Regions from separate parts of the Homo sapiens genome. Here region 1 is linked to region 2. The links come from fine-mapping of genetic effects on gene expression. Tissue or cell type: whole blood. Region 2 holds a variant in brackets; the other region holds the start of a gene. All regions are shown on one strand. Distances are between the middles of the regions.

Region 1 (4,468 bases), 44 kb after region 2:
CATTCATTCCACGGGTATTTATTGAGCGCCTACTGTCAGCCAGGCTTTGGCCTAGGTGCTGAACAACTGCATTCTCTCTAGAGCACATAGCCTGCCACTCCTCTGCTTAACCTCCTCACTCCTCAACACCCCGATTCATGCCTCCCTATTGCCTGCAGGGCAAAGCCCCAAATGGAACAGCTCTTCAGAATCAGATCCTAGTCTCCCTTTGTGCCCCATCTTCTGCTCCATCCTGCTAAGCTCCAGGCAGCCCTGGCTGTGGATCTCCCTCTAAACAGGCTGATCGTCTCTTGCCTGCCTGCCTTTGGCATGGCTGTCGCCTCGGCCTGGAATGCCCTACTGACCACACCCCTCCACATGCACTTTGCCTACCCTACTCCCAATTTACAAATCTCCTCTTCCATGAAGCAGAAGGAACTTTCTCCCTCCCCTGGGGACCCACTGCACTCTGCTGCAAGCCTGGAATGTCACGCATCATGTTACATTATTAATAGCTCTTTGGCCCCCTCTTGCTCTCAAGCCCAGGGGCTGATTCATCTCTGGGTTTCCAGGGCCCAGCACAGAGCCAGTACCCAAGAAGCATTTGCAAAGTTGTTGCAGTGAATACAGATGAATAACCCGGTCCCAAAGACAATGCAAACCCCACATTTCTGCCTTCCCTGAAGAGCCTCCCTGCTGTTTCCTCCTGTGTCCCCAGTGCCTGCTCCACAGTAGATGCACATTAAAAGTTTGTTGAATGAGGCTGGGCACGGTGGCTCACGCCTGTAATCCCAGCACTTTGGGAGGCCGAGGCGGGAGGATCACGAGGTCAGGAGATCGAGACCATCCTGGCTAACACGGTGAAACCCCGTCTCTACTAAAAATACAAAAAAAAATAGCCGCGCGTGGCGGCGGGCGCCTGTAGTCCCAGCTACTCGGGAGGGTGAGGCAGGAGAATGGCGTGAACCCGGGAGGCGGAGCTTGCAGTGAGCCGAGATGGCGCCACTGCACTCCAGCCTGGGCGAAAGAGCCAGACTCTGTCTCAAAAAAAAAAAAAAAAAAAAAGTTTGTTGAATGAATGAGTGAATGAATGAAATTCATGGTATTTCAAAGAAAATCAAACGTTCGATAACCGACTTTTGGGGTGACTGACTCAGGAATAACGACACACAGAGAGGGGTGGCAGCGCCTTTGCTCATTCCAGACCCTGTGGGCTGGTGGCCTTGCCCCTCTGAGATGTGGGCATTGCTGAAGTTCTACTTTCCTAGCCACGGGGGAAGCATTCCCCTCTCCGAGCTTCAGCCCATAATGAGCTCAACGAGGGGTCACAGGTGCGCGGTGAGGAAGCGCCCGCTAAGCTTCATCCAAAGGGCTGGAGGGAGGGGTGCTGGCTGTGGCCACGAGGCTGCCACGCCGCCAGGAGTCTCACCGGGATGGCGGTGATGAAGAAGTTCCAGGGAAGGAGGGTGCCCAGCCCCAGGATGAAGAAGCTGATCCCGACCAGGTGGTAGCTGTGGGGATCGGTGGGAAGGTCACCCCGAGGACGCACCCGCCTCCGCAGGCCCTCCCGCCTCCCAGGCCACCCCCTCCGGAGCGGACTACAACCCCGATCACCCCGGTTCCGGCGGCCGAGGGAGTCGGCTGATGGGAATTGTAGTTCGATCCGGTCTTCTCTGAGCCTCGGAGCGCCTTCAGGGAGCGGGTCTGCAACGCCCCCGGCCACTTGCAACGCACCCGGGCCCACTCACCTGTCCCGCGGGGCGTCTCCTCGCGCCATGGCCGCCGCGGCGGATGCGCCTGGGGTGAAAGGGGCAGAGAAGCCGCACCTGCACCTGCGCTGGGGCGGAGGGCCGCAGACCGGTGGGGCGGGGGGCGGGTCTCCCCAGATTCCGGTGCAGGGCGGCTGGAGTCGCACAGGTAGCCTCGGGCGGATTTCGGCGTGTCTCGCGCTCCGCAGGCTGGGACCTGGGCTCCGCCCCGAGGCGGGGACAGAGGGTCGCGCCACCCGTCTCTCCTTCCCCCACCCGCCTCAGGGACTCGACTCTGGCTCGGGCCCCGCCCCACCTAGGGGCCTGCGGAACCCGCCCGCTCCCCGCACAGCCCCTCCCCGCAGCCCCCCGTCCTCTCCGCGGGGGCGGGTCCCGGATCCCTGCGGCGGAGGGGAAGGCGGGGGTAGGGACGAGGTGTAACCTCACCTCCACCCCCCGCCGAGAGCTCTGTAGGGGCAGCACTGGTGCGGGGCTCTTCCCGCTTCGTCAGCTCCGAGGTGATGCCAGAGCCGCTCCTGCGACCCCTAAAGCTGGAACCCACCGGGGCGCCCCCTAACTAGGGAGCCGCTGCGGAGTCCCCGCCCAGAGCGTAACCCGAGCCGGGCCCGGGCGGGGGAACCAGAGCTGCCACAGGTCGCCCGCGATCCTGGCGGGCTTCGCCGCGCTGGGTCCCCGGGAGTGCCTGGAAAAAAACAGCATTACTTTCAACTCCCTACTCTTTTTCTGTTAAAAAAAAAAATTTGAAAAGACTATAAATCATTAATTTGCTCCTACTCTCATAATCTACGAATAGGTGTGGGTTCTCTGCAATCCCCGGGCGTATCGGGGACGCTGGAGAAGTGAGAGGCTCCAAAACACAAACTAGTTTTTTTGAGACTGAGTGTCGCTCTGTCGCCCAGGCGGAAGTGCAGTGGCGTGATCTTGGCTCACTGCAACCTCCCCCTCCCAGGCAGGTTCAAGCGATTCTGGTGCCTCAGCCTCAGGAGTAGCTGGGACTACAGGCGCATGCCACCACGTCCGGTTAATTTTTGTATTTTTAGTAGAAACGGGGCTTCACCAGCTCTACTGAAGAGGTGGCCAGTCTAGTCTCGAACTCATCTTTTGACCAGGCTGGTCTCGAACTCTTGACCTCAGGTGATCCGCCCGCATCGGCCTCCCAAAATGTTGCTATTACAGGCGTGAGCCACCACGCCCGGCCACAAACTATTTTCTTAAGCAATGACATTTTATAGCCATTCCCAGGTTGCTTATGTTTTTCCTCCAGCCGACTGAGAGTCTGTAGGGGCAGAGGCTGTGCTTATCTGGTCCATTGGTTTACTGGCAGCATCTAGCGCCGTTGAGTGATAAATGGGTGGTTGCAGTAAAATGCAGGTGATTTTAGGGAGAACAGAGACAGCATTAAATTACACCGAAAGAGAAAGTTATTCTTCCCATTTTCTTTCAAGCCTCTGAATATGTCAAGGGTGTTAACAGGTTGCTAACACTTCTTAATCTGCCTTCCCATCCCTTCCCCTCAGTTAGCCTCAGAGGGTCTGCTGACAATTTTATCAAAAGTTATTAACTTGTATTTTTCTTATATTTATTTTTATAGCAACTTTATTTTCAGGGCTACTCATACTGGTTTCCTATTTATGATTATGATATCAACTTTTCTTTGAAAAATCAATTTATTTATGGAAAATGAGTTATTTAAAGAAAAGCGAGGCCGCTGGTGCAGCACAGCTATGGCACAGGTTGTGAAGGAAGGACTTGAGAATGGAGGCTAGGGAGCACTGAATTTGTTGAGACAGTGAAGGGAGAGGATGAGGGCATTTCAGGGAGAGAACAGCCTGTCCCAAGACAAGGGACAAGAGAGTGCTGACACATTCTGGGACATACAAATAGATCCCTTTGGCTGGCATTGGTGGGAGGAGGGGACAGAGCCTCTACAACAGCCAGGCTGGTTATGGCAAGTCTGAGGGCTGATTAAGGAGTTCAGATTTCATTTCAAAGCACAGACGGTCAGCTGGAGCCGATTCCATCGTCCTTGTAATAAATATTTTGTTACTATCCTGCAATGAAACTCATATAAAACAAAACCTACCTATACACAATAACATTTGATGTCGAGATAATATCCTGATTTTACTGCAGATGAATCATAAGGGAAATTATTTAGTAATAACATGGTGTGTGTGAATGTGTTAATATTCATGGTACATGAAGCTGTCAAATGCTTGCCCTTCTTTCTAAAACTGCAGTGAATCCACGGCTACAAACTCACATGCGATACAGGCATGCAGTGAAACTGGCCACTCAGAGACCCACTAGTTTGCCAGGATTTTCTTTTCTTTTCTTACCTTTTTTTTTCTTTTCTTTTTCTCTTTTTTTTTCTTTTTTTTTTTTTTTTCAGACGGAGTCTCTCTCTGTTGCCCAGGCCAGAGTGCAGTGGCAGGATCTTGGCTCACTACAACCTCTGCCTCCTGGGCTCACACGATTCTCCTGCCTCAGCCTCCTGAGTAGCTGGGATTACAGGCGTGTGCCATGATGCCTGGCTAATTTTTGTATTTTTAGTAGAGACAGGATTTCGCCATGTTGGCCAGGCTGGTCTCGAGCTCCTGACCTCAGGTGATCTGCCCGTCTCAGCCTCCTAAAGTGCTGTAATTACAGGCATAAGCCACTAAACCCAGCCTCTTTTCTTTAAAAAAAAAAACAATTTTTTTTTTGAGACACAGTCTTGC
Region 2 (8,235 bases):
ATGCATGTTTGGATATAGGGCCACAGGCAGAAGTGGGAGGTCCTGAGTCATAACTAGCAGCCACCATGATGAATGACATGCTCAGAACAGAACTCCGCGGCTCTGCAGAAGTGCAGCCCAGGACAGGACAACTTAGACTACCACTGGCAGGGATCAGGTGTGATGCTTCTCGTGGTACCAAACAGCCTGTTTTCTGCTGGGTTCTGAGGCCAACATGTCTCCCTGGCTGAGGGTAGGGACGATGTACCTTCCAAGCTCAGGAGGCCAGGCTCAGCTCACATCAGGGGTCAGGAGGCTGGGGTTCCCTGCTCTGATCATGGCCCATATGAGGGGAGCTCATCTGAAGAACAGCATGAACACAGAGGCCCATGGCCTGAGAAGGAGCCTTGTCTTGCAGCTACTGGGACAGGCAAGAAGCAGATGGTGGTTTTGGATGCCATGTGTGGGCCTGTGGGGGTGAGGGTGAGGGCGGCCTGAAGAAGGGCTGGCCCAGAGAGGGCCCAGTGGAACAGCCAGGGTGGGGTATCGAGTGTGATTAGGGGACGCCCCCCAGGCAGGCGTCCTGGACGGCCTTGGCACGCCAGGCCGCTGAGCCAGCACATTGCTTTGTGTACAAATCACCTCCTTTTCTCCTTTTCTTCTGTTCCCATCCCCCACCTCCCTCCACGCCTAAATTCTTCCCAAACCACCCCAGCCTTCGGACTGTCAGGAGGAAGCTTTGATGTGTGGTGGGTGGGAGGCCACTGGTCTTGGGTGGGCGCTGGGGGGTCCCTGCCACCCAAGTCCAGGCATCTACCCCAGGCAGGAGTTGGGGAGGGAAGGGAGCGACTGCAGCCTCCTGCTCCTCCCCCCCAACCTGTGTGCTTCTGGATGGGAGATCCCTGCCGGAAGGGGAGGCAGTGGTGCTGGGGAGTGGGCCGGGTGGGAGGAATAGGCTTGGGGAAGGGGGACCCAGGAAAAGTGTGGTCCAGACCAGGCCTAGCCCCTGAGGGTAAAGGATCTTGCCGACCGAAGGGGGCTGAGGGTTGGGGGTGTATTTACCATGGTGAGAGGCCATGTTCGTGTTCCTGGATGCTTGCATGTGTGCATGTGTGTGTGCACGTGCATGTGTGTGTGCATGTGTGTGTGCGTGTGCATGTGTGTGCTTGCAAAGGCCTGGGACTGCTGTGAGTGTACAGCTGGGTGATGTGCGTGTGTCCCCGCGAGTCCACACCTGTGCCCACAGCTGTGAGGGAGCAGCATATGGCTGCCCCCAGATTGTCCAACCTGGGCCCAGCTGGGACCCCACTTCCCTCTCGTGGCAGAAGCCTGACCTGAACATCTGGCCCCATCTGCCCACAAGAAAGGGAGTCCCAGAGCACGTGTCAGAGCTAGAAGGGCCCAGGCCTCCTGCCCCAGTGTAGGAGCAGCCCTTCTCAGGGTCACAGGTTCCTCACCTGTGCAAGGGGTGCCTGTGGAGTGGACACTGTGGTCCCCGTGGTGTCTGCCAGAGGCCTACCACCCAGGGCAACCAACTCGTCCAGGTTTGCTGACCACTTTCTTGGTTTCAGCACTGAAAGTCCCATGTCCTGGGACACCCTCAACACCCCTGCCAATCCCAGGAAATCGAGATGGCTGGTCCCACTTGCCAGGGACACTTCTCTTTCCACCACATCCTTCCCCCTGCTACCCCTGTCCCTGCCTCCCCCCACCCCATCTCTGGAACCTTCTCTGAAGGTTCTTACTTTCCCCTTTGCTTCCTGTCTTGTGCCCTCTTCCTCCTGCCCCTTACTGTCCCCAGGGTCTCACTCCGTCTCTCTCTGGCTGCAGGGGTCTCTTTCTCTCTGCTCCCCTCTCTTCCCTCTCTGTCTCTGGAGTCTCTGTCTCTCTCCTCTCCTGCCCTCAGGATCGTCCCCTGCTTGGTTTCTGGGGTCTGTCTCTCCATTCTCTGCTCACTTTGGTCTCCCCCTCCACCACCGGTGTCTCCCTGTCTCTGTCTCAGGGTCTCTGGCTCGCCACCTTCCCTGGGTGGTCCAGACCTCCCTCTTGTCTGCTGGCACCACACTCCCACGGGGCTGGCTGGGGTGGAAGCCAGGTCTGGGGGCTGTGACCAGGCCGGGAAGGGGAACCCAAGCAGACATGGTATTTATGTTAGGACTTCAAAGTGGGGCAGAGGCCGCAGTGGGGGTGGAGGGGTGGAGGGCGGAGGGTGGAGGGAGGGAGGGAGGTGCTAGCAGAAGCCAGACTAAGGTCAGCACCGGCCCCTCCCAGCTGAGGGTCTCCTTGGTGACACACACCTCCCTGTGGGACCCTGAGACTCGGCGTAGGGACAGAATGGACTATTTTTGTGCAGAGTTCCAAGAAAGGCACTTCCTGCACCCCCGCCCTGCCCCCAGCCCCATCCTTTCTTCCTGTCACCCTGCAGCTGGGTCTGGGCGCTGCAGGCCCCACCTCCTCTGAGCATCAGCCTGGCCTGGGAGACAGGGGTTCTGAGGGTGGCAGAAGCACAGGGCTCGATCTCAGCAGGAAAACATCCCTGGCATGGGGACAGCCCGTGCGTTCCCGGCTCTCTGGCAGAGGCCTCGCCTGGCAGGGCTGTGCGGGGCTGTAACCCAGTTGGCCCCAACCCAGCCAGGCGGACCCAGCCCTTTGGGGCCTCTGAGCTGTCAGCCTGAGGGCCTGAGGGGCCAAAATGGGCCAAGAGGGTCACCACACCCCTGCCCCCACCCTTGGCCTAACCCCTGCTAAAGACACCCAGCTGCTAGGACCTGGAAGGCGTGGGGTCAGGGGCCCTGGCCCTGGGTGGGGTGGGTGGGAAGGGCCGATTGTCTCATCCTGCGGCTCAGCTGAGCCCCGAGCCCCTCCCAGGGGCTGCGTCCAGCAGGCACCCTTCAGGCTGGGCCACCCCCTCAGGAAGTCCTCTGCCCCCAGACTCAAGGCTCGCTCTGGACCCAGGACCCTCTGGTCCAAAGCCCATTCAGGCCCCAAATGCCCCAGCCCCTGGGCCAGTGTCTCCTCCAGGGTCCTCCCCAGGCTCTTCCTGTGAATCACTCAGGCTGGAATCTGATGAGCTCAGGCCTCCCCACCCAGCGTTGCCTGCCTCTGCCTCCTGCCTGGCTAGTGGGGTCACCACACCCCTCATGGGGGTCTTTTCCAGCAACCCACATCTCCCACCAGGGTCTAGCATGGGCTGGGGTGGGTGAGTGGTGGTGGGACAGGACAGGGCTGGAGTGAGGAGACTCGGGAGAGGGCTTGGACCGCTTCTGTGTGCTCCAAAGTATAAAAGTCTGTGTGTGTCTGTGTGTGTGTGTCTGTGTGTCTATGTGTGTGTGTGTCTGTCTTTGTGTGTCTGTGTGTCTGTGTGTGTGTCTCTGTGTGTCTATGTGTGTCTGTGTGTGTGTGTCTCTGTGTGTCTGTGTGTGTATGTCTCTGTGAGTTTCTGTGTGTGTCTTTGTGAGTGTGTCTCTGTGTGTGTTTGCACTTCAAATGCTTGGAGAGTGGGAAGGGGCAGCCGTGTGCTGTGTCTCGGGAGAGTGTGCGCCGTTGCGTCTGAGTGGGGGATGGAGTGTGCCGGTGGCAGTTCTGCACAGGTAGGTCTAGTGCATCATGGGATCCCAGTGTAGGTGGTCACCATGTGTCTCTGTGTCAGCCTGTCCCCATGTGTGTGTCCAGGAGTCACACTCTGAACCCAAGAACAAGGGTGCTGAAATATTTCAGTGTTTGCAGATCCAGGGATGTCTGAGTGGGTGGCTGGTCTGTGTCAGGGTGTGTCTGGGAGGAGGGGCGCCAGTGTGTCCCTGCACCCCATCCCGCAGGAGTGAATGGCTGACAGTGTCAGGGTGTGCCTGTTAACCCTGGGGGTGCCCCAGGGTTGTTGCACGTGCCCGTGGCTGGCAGGATGTGCACCCTGTGTGGGAATGTGGGTCAGACAGTGTCACTGTGTGTTAATTGTGGGTGTGAACATGGGTTGCAAGGCCATGGCAGGGTGCTAGATGCTCTGTGTTGAAGGTGTGGCAGGGTAGGGTGGGTCTCAATGACTGCCTTCTGCTGCAACCCTTTCAGGCCACCAGTAGGCCCCTGGTTCCTAGAGCACACTGGCCCACAGAACCAGGGATATGCAGCCCTTCCCTCACCCCCCATTCGCAGGGTCCCAGGGACCCACCACTGGGTGCTTTCCTCCTAGCAGCAGGCTGGGAGCACTGAGTCCCCTGGGTCCTCCGCCTCAGCAGAGGGGACCCTGCACGTGGCCAGGAATGAGGTGCGCTCTGCCCCCTGGTGGCAGCAATGAAGGATGCGCCACCCTGCAACCCAGGAAAGCGGAGGGACAGTTTAGGCTGCGTCTTTCCGAATCAGTCATTCCACATAGATTCACAAGTGCCAGTTCCGGCCCGGCCATTGTTCAAGGCCCTTGAGATTTAACTGCGAACAAGGTGGGGGTGGCTCTGGCATTCTAGTGA[G/C]GGAAACAGACAATAAACTTGCATACAGAACCACCGTGACTTTAGGAGTGATAAGGTCAATGCTTCCAAGTAAGGAAATGACCCGACTGCTCTTTCATAGATCCAAACGTCAGAGTTCCAGTCTTGCCCTGCAGCAGCGGACGCTGGGCCAGGCATGTCACCTCTTGGAGCCTTGGCTTCTTTTTCCATAAGGACAAAGGCTGGGGAAGGGGTGGCATGGAATCCCTAGGACACAGTGAGCTTTCAGTTACCACCCAGATCACGCCATGCAAATGGAGAGATGTGACCTATTTCCCTTTGGCTGGAGCTGGGGGCGCTTGGTGCTTGGTCTATAACAGACACTTCTGTTGTTGTTGTTGTTGTTTGATTTTTTTTTTTGGAGTCTTGCTCTGTCGCCCAGGCTGGAATGCAGTGGTGTGATCTCAGCTCACTGCAACCTCCACCTCCCAGGTTCAAGCAATTCTCCAGTCTCAGCCTCCCAAGTAGCTGGAACTACAGGCGTGAGCCACCTTGCCCAGCTAACTTCTATATTTTTAGTAGAGATGGGGTTTCACCATGTTGGCTAGGCTGGTCTTGAACTCCTGACCTCAGGTGATCTGCCTACCTCGGCCTCCCAGAGTGCTAGGATTACAGGCCTGAGCCACCTTGCCCGGCCTATAACAGATGTTTGATAGATGTGCTGAGTGGACATATAAATCAGCCCCTCTGCTTTGAAGGACTACAGAACCTGGTGTCTGAGCCCTTTGTCCTGTAACAAGGCACTTTCCCTGAGCAAGTCTGAGTTTTCTCATCTGTAAAATGGGGCTAGTGAGACTGGTCTTACACTGGCCTATCATTGTCTGCCTTGCCTGGAGGCTCTGCCCCAGGATCATAATCTTGTTGATGCTGATTTGGCCTGGACCCCTGACCAATCAGTTTCTTTTTTGTTTTCTTTTCATTTCTTTTTTTTTTTTGAGATGGAGTCTTGCTCTGTTGCCCAGGGTGGAGTGCAGTGGTGTGATCTCGGGTCACTGCAACCTCTGCCTCCCGGGTTCAAGTGATTCTCTTGCCTCAGCCTCCCCAGTAGCTGGGACTACAGGTGTGTGCCACGACGCCTGGCTAATTTTTGTATTTTTAGTAGAGACGGGGTTTCACCATGCTGGCCAGGCTGGTCTTGAACTCCTGACCTCAGGTGATCCACCGGCCTCGGCCTCCCAAAGTGTTGGGATTACAGGCGTGAGCCACCAGGCCCAGCCCAGAGTTTCTTGAGAAGAAAAACCACAAGACCCAGGCAGCAGCTCCCTGTGGTGCCCCATCACTGGGGAGGGCAGGGAGGGGGTCAGGTCATGCTGAGCCTGGCAAGGGTGGGAAGGGCTTGTAGAGGCCCCAGAGCCTCATTCCCATGAGGCCAGTTGTACATCCGGCCCCTGGGATCCTCCGAGCACCCTCTACAAACATTCCAGGTCCTTCCTCTGGGACTGAGCTTGACACATCCCGTGTTTGATTCCCAGAACCGAGTCCTCCCTTATACTCCCCAGGTTTCTGCCTCACTGTCCCTCACTCCTGGTTATCAAACTCCAATCAGTGAACAACATTTATTGAACACCTATGGCATTTGTGCTCAGCATTGGACTGTGTGAGGCACTAGGGGTGAGTGGTGAAACAGGGAGGGGAATAGAAGAGCCAACGGGACACTTCCTATCAGCGAGAACCTTGGGAGGGCGTGGAAGTGGGGAGGGAAGAGCTGCTGGTGGCCTAGTGACAAAAAAAATGGGAGCCGTGCAACTGGGCTGTATCTGGACTGCTCATCTGAAAGTCAATGTCTGGCTGGGTGTGGTAGCTCACGCCTGTAATCCCAGTACTTTGGGAGGCCAAGGCGGGCGGATCACCTGAGGTCGGGAGTTTGAGACCAGCCTGGCCAACATGGGGAAACCCCGTCTCTACTAGTAACACAAAAATTAGCCAGGTGTGGTGGTGCACACCTGTAGTCCCAGCTACTCGGGAGGCTGAGGCAGGAGAATCACTTGAACTGGGAGGCGAAGGTTGCTGTGAGCCGAGATGGCACCACTGCACTTTAGCCAGAGCGACAGAGCAAAACTCCATCTCAAACAAACAAACAAACAAAAAAACCCAAAAAGCCAATGTCCACGATTTCTACCTCCCAGTTGTCATGTCTGACATTTGGGCTGACGTCCCCTCTGTGCTCAGTGCCCGAGGAGAGAGCCTCTGGGGTCATCCTCCATAAGGGGACAATTCCTTCCTTCCTGGGGATGGCCCCCAAGAGGCTGGCCTTACCCAGACCCCAGAATCTAAGGGACCTGGGGGCCAGTGGCCTTGGCCCCTGCGCTGTCCCCAGGTTGCCTGATGCTGCTGGACTGCAAGGCCCGGGACCCCCTCTGCTGCTGCAGCCTTGGAGGCGCCCTCACCCCTGGGTGGTCACCCTCTCGGCAGATTCCCGGGCCGTGCACACCCCCTCGTGGTTGGTGGTCGGCACTTTTCCTTGTTTGGATTTGCTGCCTGCTCTGGGCTTCCTTGGGGGCTGCCCCGGCCTTTGTGGGTGGCTTAGAATGGAGGGTGGAGTTGGAACCTGATGCCCTGGTTTGGGCGGGGGAACCCTTAAGGACTTGCTATATGACATCCTGGGAGTCACTTTCCTGACCCTCAGTGGGCCCAACAAGTCATGGCCAAGTAAAGCTTTTGTGAGGGCCAAGAGTTTAGTGCAGAGAGCATGGTTTCTGAGCCCCCTCTCCATTCTGGAAGCTTATCTGCCAGCTGGTGGATCTCCCCAGAGATGCTGGAGGGCCTGGGAGGACTCCAAATCTTGGGGAGAGACTGTAACTTGGGTACTTTCTCCCCAGGGCCTGATTTCCAGGGGAATAACCTCCCTGAACTGGGCATCAGCAGGTGGGAGCCCTGTCTGGCAGAGAGCGGACTCCGGGAGAGAGTTAGCAGCCCAGCTCTCTCCCTCCCTTTCTGCCATGAGCTCTGCTTGTAGCAAAATCACCCATTTTGATCACTGGGACACTTCTGGGAGCCGAGCAGGGCAGCAATAGTGTCCCCACTTTACAGATGAGAGTACTGAGGCTTGCAGGTGCAGGTCCTTCTGGTGTCCAGGACAGGGGTGGGCCCCAAGCCTTTGCTGCTGTTCTGTGGCCTCTCTAAATCCTCCTGACACCTAAGAGCCATTGGAACCTTTTAGGGTCTGGAAGTCCCAGCCTGGTGGGAGATACTTGGGTGGAGCCCTGCCTCAGCCATGCCCATGAGGGGAAGGGTAAAAGGAGCTGAGACCGTCACCCTCCCCACGTCAGAGGTTGGGCATCTGTCGGATTCGCCCCCACTTGGCACACCCTCATTGCAGGCTGGCTCACCCTCAGCTGGGGGAGAAGAACAAGAGGCAAGGGGCCTTGGGCACACAGTCTGGGGGCCCCCGAAGCCCCCTCATCTTTATTCCAGTTCCTCAGATGTGGCAGTTCCCCCAGCTTCCCTGGAAACAAGTATCAGACAAAGGTGGTGGCAGACACAGGACAGGGCCCTGGGTGGGGCTTGCTGGCGCTAAAAGGATTTCTCAGCAGGCTCAGGGTCTCCCGCCCCGAATGACCCTTCTGGCCACTTCAAGCTACTCCTCTGCTGCCCGGCTTCCCTCTGCCTCTGGTTCCCCTGGCTGAGCAGGGCCTTCCTGGGCTTGACCCTGGCCCCCTTCAGCAGTTGTCTCAGACTGTTCCCGAATGTCCCTGGGGCTGGCTTTGACCCCAGCATCCCCATCTCCCTGGCACCCTTGCTCCTCCCCTCTGCTTCTTGCCTCTGACTGCCCACTGCCCTC

The links. PIP is the estimated chance that this variant, and not a neighbour inherited with it, causes the effect.
Region 1: it holds the start of SLC29A2, and the variant in region 2 is fine-mapped to the expression of SLC29A2 in whole blood (TOPMed, PIP 0.95).

What each region holds. Positions count from the first base shown.
Region 1 is chr11:66,369,836-66,374,303 of GRCh38, forward strand. SLC29A2 (solute carrier family 29 member 2) reads right to left here and starts at 1,925. Exons shown (of 12, transcript NM_001532.3): 1 at 1,728-1,925; 2 at 1,409-1,490. The coding sequence starts at 1,756. RefSeq lists a silencer at 1,621-2,380.
Region 2 is chr11:66,324,245-66,332,479 of GRCh38, forward strand. It overlaps RIN1 (Ras and Rab interactor 1), which reads right to left. Exons shown (of 10, transcript NM_004292.3): 10 at 5,997-8,235. The coding sequence ends at 8,032. Among named protein-coding and RNA genes, the nearest start is that of RIN1, 8.1 kb to the right of the region's middle. RefSeq lists an enhancer at 2,053-2,802. The variant G/C (reference allele first, on the strand shown) is at 4,437.